Linked DNA regions of Homo sapiens. The protein of the gene in region 1 interacts with the protein of each later gene in a biochemical or structural test. Each region holds a gene or a part of one and is shown on either strand. Other genes may lie near its edges. The genes, in order: NLRP3 and VANGL2.

Region 1 (9,053 bases):
TCACTGCAGCCTCCACTTCCCGGGTTCAATCAATTCTCCTACCTCAACTTCCTGAGTAGCTGGGATTACAGGCGCCCGCCACCACACCCGGCTCATTTTTGTACTTTTAGTAGAGACACAGTTTTGCCATGTTGGCCAGGCTGGTCTTGAATTCCTCAGCTCAGGTGATCTGCCTGCCTTGGCCTCTCAAAGTGCTGGGATTACAGGCGTGAGCCACTGTGCCCGGCCTTGGCTAACTTTTCAAAATTAAAGATTTTGACTTGTTACAGTCATGTGACATTTTTTTCTTTCTGTTTGCTGAGTTTTTGATAATTTATATCTCTCAAAGTGGAGACTTTAAAAAAGACTCATCCGTGTGCCGTGTTCACTGCCTGGTATCTTAGTGTGGACCGAAGCCTAAGGACCCTGAAAACAGCTGCAGATGAAGATGGCAAGCACCCGCTGCAAGCTGGCCAGGTACCTGGAGGACCTGGAGGATGTGGACTTGAAGAAATTTAAGATGCACTTAGAGGACTATCCTCCCCAGAAGGGCTGCATCCCCCTCCCGAGGGGTCAGACAGAGAAGGCAGACCATGTGGATCTAGCCACGCTAATGATCGACTTCAATGGGGAGGAGAAGGCGTGGGCCATGGCCGTGTGGATCTTCGCTGCGATCAACAGGAGAGACCTTTATGAGAAAGCAAAAAGAGATGAGCCGAAGTGGGGTGAGTGGAAGGAAGACTTTTAAAAAAAATTGTGGCCAAGTGCACATAGTGTACAATTTTCCATCTTTATATATATATATATATATATTTTTTTTTGAGACGGAGTTGCTCTTGTTGCCCAGGCTGGAGTGCAATGGTGAGATCTTGGCTCACTGCAACCTCCACCTCCCGGGTTCAAGCGATTTTCCTGCCTCAGCCTCCCAAGTAGCTGGGATTACAGGCATTGCACCTCCACGCCCGGCTAATTTTGTATTTTTAGTAGAGATGGGGTTTCTCCATGTTGGTCAGGTTGGTCTCAAACTCCCGACCTCAGGTGATCCACCCGCCTCGGCCTCGCAAAGTGCTGGAATTACAGGTGTGAGCCACCGCGCCCGGCCGTAATAATTTTTAAATGTACAGTTCAGTAGTGTTAGGTACACTCACATTGTGCAACCAGTCTCCAGAACTGTTTTCATCTTGCAAAACTGAAACTCCTCACCCATTGAATGATAACTCCTCATTGCCTCATTCTCCCAGCCCTGGTAACCACCATTCTATTTGCCATCTCTGTGAATCTTACTACTCTGGGTACCTCATATAAGTGGAAACATACAGCATTTTTTCCTTTATGAGTAGTTTATTTCACTCAGCATAATGTCCTCCGGGTTCAACTATGTTGTAGCATGTGTCGGAATTCCCTTCCTTTAAAAAAGACTGTATAAATACTCCATGGTACCATATACCAAATTTTGTTTAGTTATCTGTTGATGAACACCTGGATTACTTCTACCTTTTTGTTATTGTTAATGCTGTTATGAGTGTTGGTGCACAAATATCTCTTCAAGACCCTGCTTTGAATTCTCTGGGGTATATACTCAGAAGTGAAATTTCTGAATCATACGGTAATTCTGTTAAATATTTTGAAGAACTGCTCTACTGTTTTAGATACCATCTGCACCATTTCCCACCAACAGCACACAAGGGTTCCAATTTCTCCATATCCTAAGAACACGTTATTTTTATTTATTTTTTCTTTTTTATAGTAGCCATTCTAATGAGTGTGAGGTGGTATCTCACTGTAGTTTTGATTTCCGTTTCCCTAATGATAAGTGATGCTGAGCACATTTTCACTGCTTGTTGGCCATTTATAGAGCTTCTTCAGAGAAAGTTCTGTTCAAGTTCTTTTCTCATTTTCAGACCAGGTTTGGCTTTTGTTGTTGCCTTGTAGGAGTTCTTTATGTATTCTAGATATTAACCCCATATCAGATATATGATTTACAAATATTTTCTCCTATTCTGTGGGTTGTCTTTTCATTTGGTTAACTGTGTCCTTTGATGCACAGAAGTTAGTATGATTTTTTTTTTTTTAAATCATGGCCGGGCATGGTGGCTCATGCCTGTAATTCCAGCACTTTGTGAGGCTGAGGTGGGTGGATCACCTGAGGTCAGGAGTTCAACACCAGCCTGGCCAACATGGCAAAACCCCATCTCTACTAAAAATACAAAAAAAATTAGCCGGGTGTGGTGGTGGGCACCTGTAATCCCAGCTACTCAGGAGGCTGAGGTAGGAGAATTGCTTGAACATGGGGAGTGGAGGTTGCAGTGAGCTGAGATTGCACCACGGCACTCCAGCCTGGGCTAAAGAGCAAGACCCTGTTTCAAAAAAAAATTTTTTTTTCTTGTATTGTCTTGGTTTTTTCTCTTTTCCCCTCTCACGGTAGTGCTATGAGAAGGTGGAGGCAAACTGTTTGCTTTCTCTAACTCCTTTAAAAAGCTGATGCAGACTGTACCTACCCCCTGGGCACCTGCCATGATTAGTCCCTCTTTATCTGAATCTCAGCAGTGCCTAGACCTGCCTCCAATTCTCCATCCAGCTTCTCAGACCACATGTTTTGTCCAGTATCTGCTGTGTGGTCAGCAGGCTTGGGCCTCTGCTTCCTATGGCCCAGAGGGCAGCCTCTCTCCTTGAAGAACCGTGGAGTTTGGGGCAGAAGCCTTTCCTTTCACCACCACTTTGGGAATTGGAATGTAAAAGAAATTCTCTTAATCCCCATGTACACATTGGGGATAAGGTTCTTTCTTTTGTCTTGTGTTCTAGGCAAAGGTAGGGCTCAGAGAAGGGCAGGGTATTGCAGGATGATGATGTAGAGCTGGTGGTGATGGGAAGGAGGAGTACAAATGAGTCAGTGGATAGGGAGACACATGTTAAGGCAGGGCAGCAGTGTGGGTGTAATGACACTGGGGAAACAGACAGCAGTGTGCAGCCGGGGGAGGTCAGAAACCAGTTGCTGCAATGGCTCTCACCTGTAGTCCCAGCTACTCAGGAGGCTAAGGCAGGAGGATCGCTTGAGCCCAGGAGCTCAAAACCAGCCTGAGCAACATAGGGAGACCTCATCTCTAAGTAAATAAAGCAATTATCATTGTGTCAGTACTTATATACTCACATACCCAAATGAAAGTGTCATAATCACAACTGTAGAAGTACTTTGCTAAGCAGTTTTTATGGATTTTATGGCACATTCAAGAAACCCATGAAACAGCTTCTGGTATTATCCCTCCTGCAAGTGAATGAGGTGAGCCTGGAAGAGATCCTAACTGGCCCATGGTTTATTTCTAGCCATAACCAGAGCTGGGGTAAAAAGCAGGGCATGTCTCTGATCAAAGCCTGGCTCTTAACCACTACACCGTCTTTGCTTCCATATCTGGATTTTGAGGCAGAAAAGTTATAACTAGGGTTAGAAGTTTGTTTGTTTGTTTCCTGGGGTGGGGTTAGGTTTTAGGTAATAGACTTTGGCTAATTTACTGTCATGGCTCCTACCTGAGTCCCAGTTACTCAGGTGGCTGAAGTGGGTGCATCACTTGAGCTCAGGAGTTCCAGGCTGGAGTGAGCTATGACCATGCCACTGCCCTCCAGCTTTGGAAACAAAGCAAGACTCTGTCTCTTAAAAAAAAAGAATAAGATTTTGGTTTTGGCTTAGATTTTTTGGATTTTATTTTGTGATATGGTTACCAAGTAGACAGCTGTCAGAGGTCTTTTATGGGCTGGGCGCAGTGGCTTATGCCTGTAATCCCAGCACTTCAGGAGGCCAAGATGGGAGGATTGCTTGAGCCCAGGAGTTTGAGACCAGCCTGGGCAACATAGTGAGAACCTGTCTCTACAAAAAATGCAAACATTAGTTAGGTGTGGTGGCACGTGTCAATAGTCCCAGCTGTTCTGGAGGCTGAGGTGGGAGGATCACTTGAGCCCAGGAGGTTGAGGCTGCAGGGAGCCATGATTGTGTCATTGCACTCCAGCCTGGGCAATAGAGTGAGGCCCTGTCTCAAAAAAAAAAAAAAAATCATTTATGTTACTTGTAGATTCCTGCCCACCTGAAGTTATCTGTCTTATATATTTCCCCTAGTGACTAACTCTTGTTTTACCTAACCTGAATTTCTCCTATAGAATGCCTTCTTAAGATATGCTATCTAGTGACTGTTTGGATTTGTGATTCTCAACACAGATGCATGTTGGAATCACCTGGGAGCTTTTAGTATGTGATGGTTCCTGGGCCTCACCTCAGAGGGACTGAAAAAGAACCTCTGGGCGTGCAGTCCTGAAGTCCATATTTTTAAAGCTTCCTGGGTGATTCTAAAGTCAGCCAGGATTCCCAACCACTAGATTAGGCACGAAATAGACTGGTCGTTCTCACTCTTGAAGAACCAGACATCTAGACTTGACAATAGAAGACGTGTGTAAAATGGATTGCAGGGAACTGCGGTCAGGGAAGGGTGACCTTTCTTAGCCCACAGCCGTGTTGGGGATATAGGAGAGCTTGGAGATGCCCTCACAATCAGGCTGCCAGGGGCAGGCAAAAGCAAACGAGGGTAAAAGAAACTTAGCCTGCTTCGCATGTTTGCTGATTGATTTCCAGGCCTGAGGAAGAGATTCTGAGACTGGGGACAGTGGGAACACATGCTTGGCAGGTGGACAGCAGAAGTTGTTTTGAAACTAGGAGTGCAGAAATGCTCCCAACCAGACTTTTGACTGGATACCTGTCCTCTGCAACTCAGAGCCATGTTTTGATTTGGGGGATGTTTGGGGTCTCCTCTCTCATGCCAAATATTAGGCCAGGTTTCAATTGCATCCTCTGTGATAATAGTTCTGGGTTTTGACACCTTTTTTTTCCCTTTTAGGTTCAGATAATGCACGTGTTTCGAATCCCACTGTGATATGCCAGGAAGACAGCATTGAAGAGGAGTGGATGGGTTTACTGGAGTACCTTTCGAGAATCTCTATTTGTAAAATGAAGAAAGGTAAGCGACTGGGGTGGTGCTTCTAGTTGAGTTTTAAGACCTGGTTCAGGAGGCTCTGGGAAGCTGAGCAGCTGGGTAACTTGGCCATACTATAGGTTCCTGCTCTTTGGAATGCAAAGGCCTGTCTCAGGAAATCCATTGTCAGTTGAAGAAACAAATTCATGTTTGTGTGGCTCTTGCAGTCCCAGAGCCAGCGGCGGTGATTAAGCGTTTCAAGTTTGATAAGGCATAGGATGCAGATTACTTAAAGGAATAAGATTGATTCAAATGATCTTTGGGCTGGTAGCTACACATAGAGATGGGCCTTCTGCTCAGCTGTGTATCTTAAAAACTTGACACCAGAGATTCTCGGCACCTTTCCTACCCAGTGGGGAGGAGCTGCACCTTCCATTTCTCCATTCCGGTTACCACTCGCTTCCGATGACAGGCCCCAGCTGAGAGCGCATCTCAGGTGGATGTGTGTATACTTTCCCCCTAACTTCCTGTCTTTGCCGTAGATTACCGTAAGAAGTACAGAAAGTACGTGAGAAGCAGATTCCAGTGCATTGAAGACAGGAATGCCCGTCTGGGTGAGAGTGTGAGCCTCAACAAACGCTACACACGACTGCGTCTCATCAAGGAGCACCGGAGCCAGCAGGAGAGGGAGCAGGAGCTTCTGGCCATCGGCAAGACCAAGACGTGTGAGAGCCCCGTGAGTCCCATTAAGATGGAGTTGCTGTTTGACCCCGATGATGAGCATTCTGAGCCTGTGCACACCGTGGTGTTCCAGGGGGCGGCAGGGATTGGGAAAACAATCCTGGCCAGGAAGATGATGTTGGACTGGGCGTCGGGGACACTCTACCAAGACAGGTTTGACTATCTGTTCTATATCCACTGTCGAGAGGTGAGCCTTGTGACACAGAGGAGCCTGGGGGACCTGATCATGAGCTGCTGCCCCGACCCAAACCCACCCATCCACAAGATCGTGAGAAAACCCTCCAGAATCCTCTTCCTCATGGACGGCTTCGATGAGCTGCAAGGTGCCTTTGACGAGCACATAGGACCGCTCTGCACTGACTGGCAGAAGGCCGAGCGGGGAGACATTCTCCTGAGCAGCCTCATCAGAAAGAAGCTGCTTCCCGAGGCCTCTCTGCTCATCACCACGAGACCTGTGGCCCTGGAGAAACTGCAGCACTTGCTGGACCATCCTCGGCATGTGGAGATCCTGGGTTTCTCCGAGGCCAAAAGGAAAGAGTACTTCTTCAAGTACTTCTCTGATGAGGCCCAAGCCAGGGCAGCCTTCAGTCTGATTCAGGAGAACGAGGTCCTCTTCACCATGTGCTTCATCCCCCTGGTCTGCTGGATCGTGTGCACTGGACTGAAACAGCAGATGGAGAGTGGCAAGAGCCTTGCCCAGACATCCAAGACCACCACCGCGGTGTACGTCTTCTTCCTTTCCAGTTTGCTGCAGCCCCGGGGAGGGAGCCAGGAGCACGGCCTCTGCGCCCACCTCTGGGGGCTCTGCTCTTTGGCTGCAGATGGAATCTGGAACCAGAAAATCCTGTTTGAGGAGTCCGACCTCAGGAATCATGGACTGCAGAAGGCGGATGTGTCTGCTTTCCTGAGGATGAACCTGTTCCAAAAGGAAGTGGACTGCGAGAAGTTCTACAGCTTCATCCACATGACTTTCCAGGAGTTCTTTGCCGCCATGTACTACCTGCTGGAAGAGGAAAAGGAAGGAAGGACGAACGTTCCAGGGAGTCGTTTGAAGCTTCCCAGCCGAGACGTGACAGTCCTTCTGGAAAACTATGGCAAATTCGAAAAGGGGTATTTGATTTTTGTTGTACGTTTCCTCTTTGGCCTGGTAAACCAGGAGAGGACCTCCTACTTGGAGAAGAAATTAAGTTGCAAGATCTCTCAGCAAATCAGGCTGGAGCTGCTGAAATGGATTGAAGTGAAAGCCAAAGCTAAAAAGCTGCAGATCCAGCCCAGCCAGCTGGAATTGTTCTACTGTTTGTACGAGATGCAGGAGGAGGACTTCGTGCAAAGGGCCATGGACTATTTCCCCAAGATTGAGATCAATCTCTCCACCAGAATGGACCACATGGTTTCTTCCTTTTGCATTGAGAACTGTCATCGGGTGGAGTCACTGTCCCTGGGGTTTCTCCATAACATGCCCAAGGAGGAAGAGGAGGAGGAAAAGGAAGGCCGACACCTTGATATGGTGCAGTGTGTCCTCCCAAGCTCCTCTCATGCTGCCTGTTCTCATGGGTAAGGAAACTCGGCTTCCAGGTGCTTCCTCCTGCTTCCTCGCCAGCTTCTTCTTGGCGCTTGCCTCCTCTCATCTCTTTTCAACTATCTTCCAAATACTGTTGCCACAGCTACATCATAATGCCACCACTGTCTGTTTGAGACTCCTTCATGAGCAAAGATTGATGTATGGTAGGTGGATAAATGGGATGAGGAAAAAAAAAATAAAACAAGGAACAAATGTTTGGGGAATGCCAGTTTAGCACAAGGTATTAAGTAGGATGTAGGATTGCCTACAAATATTTGTCAACTGAAATTTCTTGTAAGCTACTTGGAGCACTAGTGCCTAAGAGTCAGTCAATGTCTGTGGGGCAGAACAATGCCAGAGAGTCTGTGTCCCAGGAGCGAGGGGACAGAGGGCCTCAGAGCTGGAGGCTGGGGGGATGTTTCTTAGAAATGTGCAATCTAAGCCTCCTTTAAGGAATGGTGGGACCTGGGCGCATAGAGAAGAAATTAAAGGAATTCTGCACTGAAGACTGGTATGAGCCAAATCATGAATGCAGTCTGAGAAAAAGTGTGTGCAGGTGACAGTGGAGAGAGACACAGTTTCCTTGGAAAAAAACATGATGAAGGTAAATCAAGGGAAATAGAGCAGAAATGTGGAGACCCTCTTTCTAGGCCCCCATGTTGCTCTGCACTGGGCATTGCCAAAACCCCGTTTTCGGGTCTGTTCACACACTTGCTGGGTGGTTGGAAGCTAGTGGCCAAGTCTGTGCAATGAAGTGGTTGAGTCACCTGACTTCTGAGTCCCTTTTGGGTTTATCGTTCAGTGCCTCCTGCAGAAGGACCACCCACAGTGGTTGTAGGAAGGTGGCCACCCTGTGATGTGTGAGTTTAGCCTGGATAGAAGACACTTGACGTGGGGCAAAATTAAGGGAAACAGGAGGCTTGGCCCTTCCACAGGCAACAATGAGTTTCAGCTTTCTTGATCCGTTGACATTACCATGACCAGGACCACCTTCCTAGTCATGGTTTGGCCATGAAGGACTGACTGCCCACAGGGCCGCAGTGGTGGTGAAGACCCAGGTCCTGGTCACAGGGACTTGAGGTCTGGCTGTGGGACAGTCCGGAAACAAGTGCAGATGTCGGGGAGGGGGTCATGGGCTCTGACAAGGAAACTTGCAGAGTATCCAAAGCACAAGGGGACGAACCTGTTCACCAGCGGGGCACGGGTGGGTGTCCCCGCTCAGCCAGCTTCCGGAGGATGGGCAGTGAGAGAGTGAGAGAAGGAAAGGGGCAGCCAGGCTGGGGGCTTACGGTGTTGAGAGAGAGGGCAGGTGTGGGAAAGCAGGGTACGGTTTCTACGGCAGCAAACAGTTCCGAGTGACTGGAAAAAAGACAGTTGTCTTCATTCATCAGGTTGCCATAACAAAACACTGCAGGCTGGTTGGCTTATAAGCAAAAGGAAGGTTCACCTTACGGTTCTGGAGGCTGGGAAGTCCATGATCCAGGCTCTGGCAGATCTGGTGTTTGGTGAGGGCCTGTTCCCTGGTCGATGGTGCCTTCTCACTGTGTCCTTACATGGTGAAGAGGCAAGGCAGCTCTCTGGGGTCCCTTTCCTAAGGACAGCAATCCCACTCCTGAGGGCTCCACCCTCATAACTTAACCACACCTCAAAGGCCCCATCGCCTGATACGTCATGTTGAGGGTTAGGATTTCAGCGTATGGATTTTGGGGCACACAAACATTCAGACCATAGAAATGGGAGAAGAAGAGTAAGACAGAGAGAAAAGTAGGCAGAACTACTCATTAAGAGTGAGGTGGAAGGTGGAGAGGGCAGGGAGACCT
Region 2 (9,053 bases), about 87 Mb from region 1:
AGAATGGCGTCACCTAGATCTTGGGAAAGGAGTATGGGAAGAGTAGATGGAGAAAGCCCAAGGGACAAGAAGTAAGGCTGAGGGATGGAGCAGGGACCCCAGGAGAGAGTTCTCCAGGACAGGGGTGAGCAGGTTTTCTATTCTAACCTCTGCTGCCCACTGTGCTCACCTGGTAGGGAGGACAGTGGGCAGAACACAGTCCTGGAATAGGGCAGAGGCAGGATTTTAGGTGACACTGAGGTTGCCCAAGTCTCATTCCCCTTGGGATCATCTTTGGGGGCTGGAGATTCCCAGCTCCTTTTTCCTCAGAAGAAATCTCTGTGGCTGACATTGGGAATTCCTGGGCCTTGGGAGCAGGTCAATACCTGAAGGAAATGTTCTTTTTCCCTCTCTCCCAATCCCTTCTTCCTGGGGCCTGGCCTCCTGAGTTCTTGAAGTGACCCTGAGACATGACCAGCTCACCTGCTACTGGGGAGGAGATCCCAAGCCCTTGGTCCTTGGAGGGGGTGGGCAGTATGTCTAGGGGTCAGAGGGCGGGGAGCAGACCCAGGGCTTTGAGCTGAAGGCAGTCAGTGCATCTGCTTTCTATCTTCACATCAGACTCGTTCCCCATCCTGTAGAGAGGAGGTTCCTCAACCTCCCTAATCACTGGTGCTGTCGGGCTGCCTTCATCCTGTAACCTCAACCTCCTGGGTGTCAGGTTGTGATTCCATATCCCCAGGCTGTCCCAGGAGCGAAGGGTGGGTGCTGAAGGCAGCTGGTGGTCTTGGGACTCCTCCGTGGGATGGCCTCCAGCCACTGCAGAGAAACAGCTTGAGCAGACCACACTTAGAGGGACACCTGGGGACCTCAGCCTGGCCACCTTCTTGCCTCCAGAGACAGGTAGCCTCTGCACTGTAGACATTTAGATGGCCCAGCAGAGGTGGCCTTGCAGACCAGAGACCCAGAGTGGCCTTGAGTCTGCACAGTGTCCTTCACGCCTTCACCCCTTTACCCCTGGGGTCTTCTGTTCTTCTCTGTGCTGCTTTGATCAGGTTTACTCCTTCAGTGGCTCTCCATGCCTGGAGAACAGGTGCTTATTGCCCAGCCCAGCACTGCAGCGTGGCCTGCACAAGCCCTGCCTGGCTGCTGTCTGCCTTACCTTCCTGGTTGCACCTTGCTGTGCTTCTGCACAGGGATCCTCTGCTCTCATAGCCCTTGGGTGCCTCAGTTCATGCCATTCCTGCCCTGGAGGCTCCTCCTCTAGCTTCTGCCAAAATCATGGCATGCTGGAAGGAACTTAGATAGGACTTCCATAATTTTTTTTTTTTTTTTTTTTGAGATGGAGTTTCGCTCTTGTTGCCCAGGCTGGAGTGCAATGGCACGATCTCTGCTCACCACAACCTCCTCCTCCTGGGTTCAAGCGATTCTCCTGCATCAGCCTCCCGAGTAGCTGGGATTACAGGCATGTGCCACCACACCCAGCTAATTTTTTGTGTGTGTGTGTTTTTAGTAGAGATGGGATTTCTCCATGTTGGTCAGGCTGGTCTCGAACTCCCGACCTCAGGCGATCTGCCCACCTCGGCCTCCCAAAGTGCTGGGATTACAGGCGTGAGCCACCGTGCCCAGCAGGACTTCCAGAATTAATGTTAATGTTTGAGTGATTCATGTGGATCTTGTTAAAATGCAGATTTGGTTCAGTAAACATGCGGTGGGCCTGAGGTTCCGCCTTTCTAACAAGCTCCCAGGTGATGTCCACACCGCTGGTCCACAGATCACATTTTAAGTAGCCAGCCAGCCCTTAGAAATCATTTAGTTCAGTGATTCTCAATCTTGGATGACCATTACAATCATCTGGGGAGTTTTTTGTTTTTTTTTTTTAAAGGTTCACAAGCAGATTGCACTCTCCAATAATTAGCATTATTTTCCAACTTCCCTAAGTGTTCTAATGTGTGCATCTGGGATTGAGAACATCTTCCTTGGAGCCCCCTTCCCCCAAGGATCAGCTCAGGTCCCACGGTTTCTGGAAGCCTGCCTGCTTTGCTTGGCGAGTTTGCCCTTGGATCCCAGTCACTGCCTGAGCAGCATCTTCAGCATTTGTCCTGTGCTGTCTGCTCTGAGGGTCATTGCCGCATGTGTGGTTTTTTCCTCTCTCACTGACCAGTGTCCAGCTCCCCGAGGGCTCGGGTCTTGGATTTGGCCATCTGCAGAGGCCAGACTTTGACACACATTGGAGCTCAGTAAATACTTTGATGGTTGCGTATTTGTTGATTACCCTCTCTTCTTTCTGCCTTCTCCTTTCCCATGTGTTCTTCTCTGTCTCCTGTCCCCTCACCCTTTCTCCTGTTTCCCTCCTCTTCCTCTTCTTATCCTTTCCTCCTTATTGTGTGGCTGGCCCCCTTCTGCCTGTAGGATGACAACTGGGGGGAAACGACGACAGTAGTAACGGGCACCTCAGAGCACAGCATCTCCCATGATGACCTCACACGCATCGCCAAGGACATGGAGGACAGTGTCCCTCTGGACTGCTCCCGTCACCTGGGTGTGGCAGCGGGGGCCACCCTGGCACTGCTGTCTTTCCTCACGCCTCTGGCCTTCCTGCTGCTGCCCCCACTGCTGTGGCGGGAGGAGCTGGAGCCTTGCGGGACGGCCTGCGAGGGCCTCTTCATCTCTGTCGCCTTCAAGCTGCTCATCCTGCTACTGGGCAGCTGGGCTCTGTTCTTCCGCCGGCCCAAGGCCTCGCTGCCCCGCGTCTTTGTGCTGCGTGCCCTGCTTATGGTGCTGGTTTTCCTGCTCGTGGTCTCCTACTGGCTCTTCTATGGTGTGCGCATCCTGGATGCTCGGGAGCGCAGCTACCAGGGCGTGGTGCAGTTCGCCGTGTCGCTGGTGGACGCCCTTCTTTTCGTGCACTACCTGGCCGTGGTCCTGCTGGAGCTGCGCCAGCTCCAGCCTCAGTTCACGCTCAAGGTCGTGCGCTCCACCGACGGCGCCAGCCGCTTCTACAACGTTGGCCATCTCAGGTACTAGCCCACGGCTGGAGAAGGGTTGGGAGGGAAAGGGCATGGGAGGATGTGGAGTGACTGCTAGGGTGGGAGGGTATGATGGTGGGCTGGAGGTGATGGGCTTGGAGGGTTGTGTGGGAGGGAGTTGAGTACTTTGCACCAAGTAGGTTTTCACCAATGTTTGCTGCTTGATAGGCAGGTTCATGTACACGGTCTTGGGGCAAGATCAGTTGGGAGTTATGAGATGGGAATGAATAGGCATTTAGAGGTAGGGAATATTAGAGGGGGATGGACCAAAGGGAAGAAATATGGGGGGGTGCACAAACAGGGGCTTTTTGGAATCCCTTTTCTAGTCCTTTCTGGGAGGCGCAGCTTCTTGTGAGCACTCAGAGTGGCCTGTGAAGTGACCTGGCCAGAGGAGGGATCCCCAGAGAAAGAGATAAGGAGGAGAGTTCTTCAGCTCCCAGTAAACAAGCTACCCCTCGAGGCCACACAGAATATCAGTGGCACGTCCTGGGTCCTGTAGAGGATCTTGGGGGAACGCTGAATGGGGATGAGGTGATCTTTGGCTGGGGACCCAGGCCCAATGCCCTTTCTCTGCTAGGCTTTGGCATGGTGGGGAGGGACTGGCAGGCCCAGCCCTGGGAAAGGCTTGGGAGCCTGGTAAGTAGACCTCAGGCCCGGAGTCAGGCTTCTCGGAAGCAGCTTGTCCCTGTCCTGTGTCCTCTCCTGCCCTGCCAACCTGCCCTAATGTGTCCCTTTCCCCTGTGCCCCTTGGTCTGTCCCTTCTCCCACCCCCTCCTGCCGTCTCCCCCACAGCATCCAGCGCGTGGCAGTGTGGATCCTGGAGAAGTATTACCATGACTTCCCTGTCTACAACCCTGCCCTCCTCAACCTGCCCAAGTCCGTCCTGGCCAAGAAAGTGTCTGGCTTCAAGGTGTATTCCCTCGGAGAGGGTGAGCAGCCCTGCTCCTCTGCCCTTCCCTGTCTCTTCCCAAGCAGGACTCCAAGTTCCCGCCTCTCTTTTACCCTTTGTCCCTTGCTTTTTCCTTTCCTTAGCCCATGTTCTAGCCGCTTCTATTCAGTCATTTCCCTTGACTCCAGGTGGCTGATCTTAGCTGCTCATCCTACTTGCTGTCCCTTTATGCTATGGCATGTCCCCTGATCTGGCTCCTCTGTGTCTCTCATCAGCCCTGGTCTAAGCCCTTTGGCTCTCGGAGCTGCAGAACCCCCTGCACTGGGGAGGAACAACTGCAGGACTCTTGCGCTTCCAGTGCCTTCCTTGTTGCTTTCCTATGGCCTCTCCCAGAGGTGGCCAGGAGGGTTGGGATTAGGAGGTATTGCTGGGTGGTGGGAACAGCTTCTTCTGGACATGTCAGGCTGCTGTCTCCAGAGCTCCTGGAGTGGGAAGAGAGGCCACACTCTGATGTGACCATCTCCTCTATCCTGTTCCTGTGCAGAAAACAGCACCAACAACTCCACTGGCCAGTCTCGGGCTGTGATTGCAGCGGCAGCTCGGAGGCGGGACAACAGTCACAATGAGTACTACTATGAGGAGGCTGAGCATGAGCGAAGGGTGCGCAAGAGGAGGGCCAGGTGGGTCCCTGGGGGAGAAGAGGAGAGGAGGTGCTTGTTGGGTGAATGGGGAGAGGAAGACCAAGGAACTTCTGTAACTGCTGGAAATATAGGGCAATGATGACATGAGTTGGGGGTGTGTGCTTGTTTTCCGTTGCTGCCCTAACAGATTACCATAAACTTAGCAGCTGTGAAACAGCACACATTTATTATCTCCCAGTTCCATGGGTCAGGTGCAGGCTGGCTGGAGGCTGTGCTCAGGCCTCACAGGCTGAAATCAAGAGGACTCTCATCTGAGCCTATGCTTTCTCTTTCAAGCTCATTATTATGGGGAGAATTCAGTGCCTTGTCACATAGCCCCATAGGCAGTTTACATGATGGTAGTGCACTTTTTTTTCCAGCAGAAACAGGTCTCTGACCTCTGCCACCAGCTGGAGATAATGCTGATTTTAAAGAGCTCATGTGATGAGATCAGGCCCTAAAGGACAGTCTTCTTTTAAGGCCACTGACTTGGCACATTAATTACATCTGCAAAATGTACCAAGATTGTTGTCTAATGAGGGGATGGGAGTCTGGTAGAAGTGGAGGGTATCTTTGAATTCTGCCTGCCACAGTGGGGTAGGGACCCAATAAAGGGATGTGAGCTTTACCTGCAACAGCATGGACTCAGGCTAGACTAGCCTGCCTGCCAGTAGATCTTGAGAGGACTCACCAGATGGTGCTTTTGTTGCCTTCAAAAAATGACGTTTTATTGCCTATATTTTGGTAAATTCTTAAATGCCATCCTAGCTTCTCCCTTTCCCTATTCATATTATTAAGTGAATTTAGTCAACCCTGAAGAATCTTACTTGGTGCCTACTCTGCCGGGTTCCATCTTGGTCTGTCGGGAGTTCCCTGAGGGAGGAGCAGAGTGCCTCAGGACTTGACCACGCACCTGGCCTCCGCCCCATCTCCCACATGAACTCCAGGCTTCAAGGGCAAGAGGTAGCCCTTACCTTGTTCCTATTTGAGGCTGGCATCCCCTGTAGTAGAACAAAGATCACCAACTCCATTTCTGTGGCATTCCAACCTGTCTCTAATTGTCTTGGAAATGGCCTGAGACTTGGGAAGGAAACCAGTGATGTCCCTACCCCTTTATCTTCTGCCCTGACCAGGGTCATCCAATCTCCTGTACTGCCACCACCATTTTTGGCACATAGAGGACTCTTTCCTTTCCCCATTACCTTGCTTTTAACCAGGAGCAAACTTTTTCCTTTGTTTACCTGAGATAAAAGGATCTTTTCAAAGGGAATTTACTGAGAAATGTAGGGGAAGCAAGAGAATAAAGGAAGAAATGATAGACATACACAGATCCACACCTATATACCCAGAGTCCCATCTGAAATGACTCAGGTTCCTGGGTTCTGCATAGAAGGCCTCACTTTCTTTCTTTGTCCTGTCACTTCAGGCTGGTCCTGCTCTTAGGCCAGGGGGCTTTTATTTTGGTTTTTGGACTTGAAGTGCAGATAATTGCATTAATTGCTCTTTTCAGCTTCTAACATATTGTCATTATAGAGTTTTTCATGGTTCTTTATTCTGTTTCTTCTTTTCCTCCAGTTCCCACTTTCACTCCAGCGCCACATTTTAGGCATCCTGTTGAGTGTGTTTGACTTCCTTAAAAGCTATATGTATCCTTGTGCAAAGTTAGTGTTAGTGTAGTGATCTTTGTTGGTGTTGGTGTGTGTGTCTGTATGTATGCTTTTTTTTTTTTTTTTATTGAGATGGAGTCTTGCTCTGTCCCCCAGGCTGGAGTGCAGTGGCATGATCTCAGCTCACTGCAACCTCCGCCTCCTGGGTTCAAGTAATTTTCCTGCCTCAGCCTCCCCAGTAGCTGGGATTACAGATGCACACCAGCATGCCCAGCTAATTTTTGTATTTTTAGTAAAGATGGGGTTTTGCCATGTTGGCCAGGCTGGTCTTGAACTCCTGACCTCAGGTGATCCACCTGTCTCACCCTCCCAAAGTGCTGGGATTATAGGCATGAGCCACCACACCCGGCCATCTATATGCTTTTAATGTAAATGGATTTTTTTTTCCTGCTTCCTCCTTAACACTGTGTTTTTGAGATTCATCCAAGTTGTCTGTACATCTAGTTTGTTGCATCTTTTTGCTGCATAGTAGTTCATGGAATACTCCCAACATCCTATCCAATATTTGGTTTATAGTTACCTTCTTTCTTTTTTCCATTTTGATGGAAAAGTAATATTTTACTAACATTTTCATTTGCATCTCTCTAATTGCTAGCCAGTAACTACTTCGTATATCTTTTAGCCTTTCAGTCCTCTTGTGAATTTTCTGTTCACCTCCTTTGCCCTTTTTTCTCTAGGTTTCCTGTCTTTTTCTTCTTGATAGAAATTGTAGCAAATTCTTTGCATGTTCTAGATCTGAATCCCTTGTTGGTTTTAGATGTGTATATTTTCCCCAGCTCCATCAGATGTCAGTTAATGTTGCCCATGCTGTCATGGTTGAACAGAAATCTGTCATTTTGATGTAATCATATCTATTAATTGTTGAGCCAATGAAGTATGATTTGGGGGTCTTATTTAAGAAGGTTTTCCTTAAAGTTTGGTGGAATGCTTTGTCTTTCCTATAGCATAGTTCCTAGTTGTCTCTCTGGGTTTGACACTAGGTTTGCCCTCTGAGTCCCTGGGCTGGGCCCACTGAACTCTGTGGCTGTTTACTGTTCCCAGTGGCAGAAAGGCACTATTGCCTCTGGCTTTGTATTACTTTGGGTGAGCACAAAGGCCTGACCTCATTCAGGCTGCTGGAGTGTTGGAGCTAGGGGAGAGGGGTGGGGTGGGGGAAAGAGAGGTGGGCATCTGGCCCAGTCCCCTCCTGTCCCCTAGGCTTGTAGTGGCGGTGGAGGAGGCCTTCACTCACATTAAGCGGCTGCAGGAAGAGGAGCAGAAAAACCCCAGGGAGGTGATGGACCCCCGGGAGGCAGCCCAAGCCATCTTTGCATCCATGGCCCGTGCCATGCAGAAGTACCTTCGGACCACCAAGCAGCAGCCCTACCACACCATGGAGAGCATCCTGCAGCACCTTGAATTCTGCATCACGCATGACATGACGCCCAAGGTAGGCCTGCCCTGCTGCCAGCATCCTTCCTCCTTCCCCAGCTCCTCTTCTTTCCCACCTTCATTTTCCCTTATTCTCTCACTACTTTCCTCACTGTCCACCTCATTTCTCTCTCCTCACCACCTCCTTTTTATAATCTTCTCTCTCATTCCTATTCCACCTGCCCCATCTGTGTGGGGTGAAGTCTTTAGGTAGATGAGGAGAAGGGAGTCCTCAGGACCATTTTGGGGATGGCTGAGACTTATTTCTCATCTCTATGAGGGCTCCGGAATTACCAGATCCAAAGGCCCACTTTCACCTCCATTACCCTCTTCACCTCCACTAGCTGGTCTTGGCTTTGTGTCATTTTGAGCCATTGCCCACCTTCAACTCTATTGCCAGCTTCCTAGAATTGCTTTCCCTGAGCCACCCTTGGTGAGCAGGTAACTAAAGATGTTGCACTTTAACCTTGACACCTTTGGCTCCCTCCTGGTGCAGACCTGCTTGGCACGAATCATACAAGCTGTGTGGGAAGGAAGGAAGAATGAGGGAGGGCTTGCCCAGGTCACAGCCTGGTGCAGGGAGAAGAGCAGCAGATGGGGGTCAGGGGAGCCGAGTTCAGTCCTACCTGATGAGCCACATCCCCCTGTGCACTCCGGCTTCTTCATTTATAAAATGAGGGTCTGAAGCAGATGATCTCAGGCCCCTTCCTGCTGTAACATTCTGAGGTTCTAGTTCATATGCATAGAGTGAGCTCAGGGACGTCCTTCTTGTCTTTGGAAACTATGACCTAGGGGATGAAGGACCGTGGGTAGATGACAGAGATTCTTATGCAGCCCCTTCTTTCCACTTCAGGCCTTCTTGGAGCGATACTTGGCGGCTGGACCTACCATCCAGTACCACAAGGAACGCTGGCTGGCCAAACAGTGGACATTGGTGAGCGAGGAGCCGGTGACCAACGGCCTCAAGGATGGCATCGTTTTCCTCTTAAAACGCCAGGACTTCAGCCTGGTGGTCAGCACCAAGAAGGTCCCATTCTTCAAACTCTCCGAGGAATTTGTGGATCCCAAGTCACACAAGTTTGTCATGAGGCTGCAGTCTGAGACCTCAGTGTGACTGTGCAACAGCAGGGGGAGTGGGAAACTCTGGGGGGTCCTGAGGGGGTGGGAGGGGGCTTGGTTCTCAGGCCCAGCCACATTCCTGCCACCCTTCTTCTTCTTGCTCTTTTTTTTTTACTTGAATTAACGCACCCCCACCTTCTCTCCTCGCTTCTTCCTTATTTTACCCCATGTGAACCTGGAGAGACCATCCTGCTGTCAACAGTACCTGGGAAGGACTCCCACCTCACCAACAACTTTTGTATTACTCTAGGCCCTGCAGGAATCAGTGCCTCTCTCCCTC

Evidence for each region.
Region 2: the proteins of NLRP3 (region 1) and VANGL2 form a complex in vitro, tested with the Homo sapiens proteins (one study listed by BioGRID).

The regions. Positions count from the first base shown.
Region 1 is NC_000001.11:247,418,374-247,427,426, forward strand, and holds part of NLRP3 (NACHT, LRR and PYD domains-containing protein 3), read left to right. Parts: 5' UTR 1-421; coding exon of another isoform or gene 422-427; coding exon 428-704; intron 705-4,856; coding exon 4,857-4,976; intron 4,977-5,473; coding exon 5,474-7,226; intron 7,227-9,053. UniProt on the Homo sapiens protein: Sensor component of the NLRP3 inflammasome, which mediates inflammasome activation in response to defects in membrane integrity, leading to secretion of inflammatory cytokines IL1B and IL18 and pyroptosis.
Region 2 is NC_000001.11:160,416,611-160,425,663, forward strand, and holds part of VANGL2 (vang-like protein 2), read left to right. Parts: intron 1-2,391; coding exon 2,392-2,999; intron 3,000-3,334; coding exon of another isoform or gene 3,335-3,383; exon of another isoform or gene 3,384-3,788; intron 3,789-3,800; coding exon 3,801-3,937; intron 3,938-4,441; coding exon 4,442-4,577; intron 4,578-7,441; coding exon 7,442-7,673; intron 7,674-8,507; coding exon 8,508-8,768; 3' UTR 8,769-9,053. UniProt on the Homo sapiens protein: Involved in the control of early morphogenesis and patterning of both axial midline structures and the development of neural plate. Plays a role in the regulation of planar cell polarity, particularly in the orientation of stereociliary bundles in the cochlea.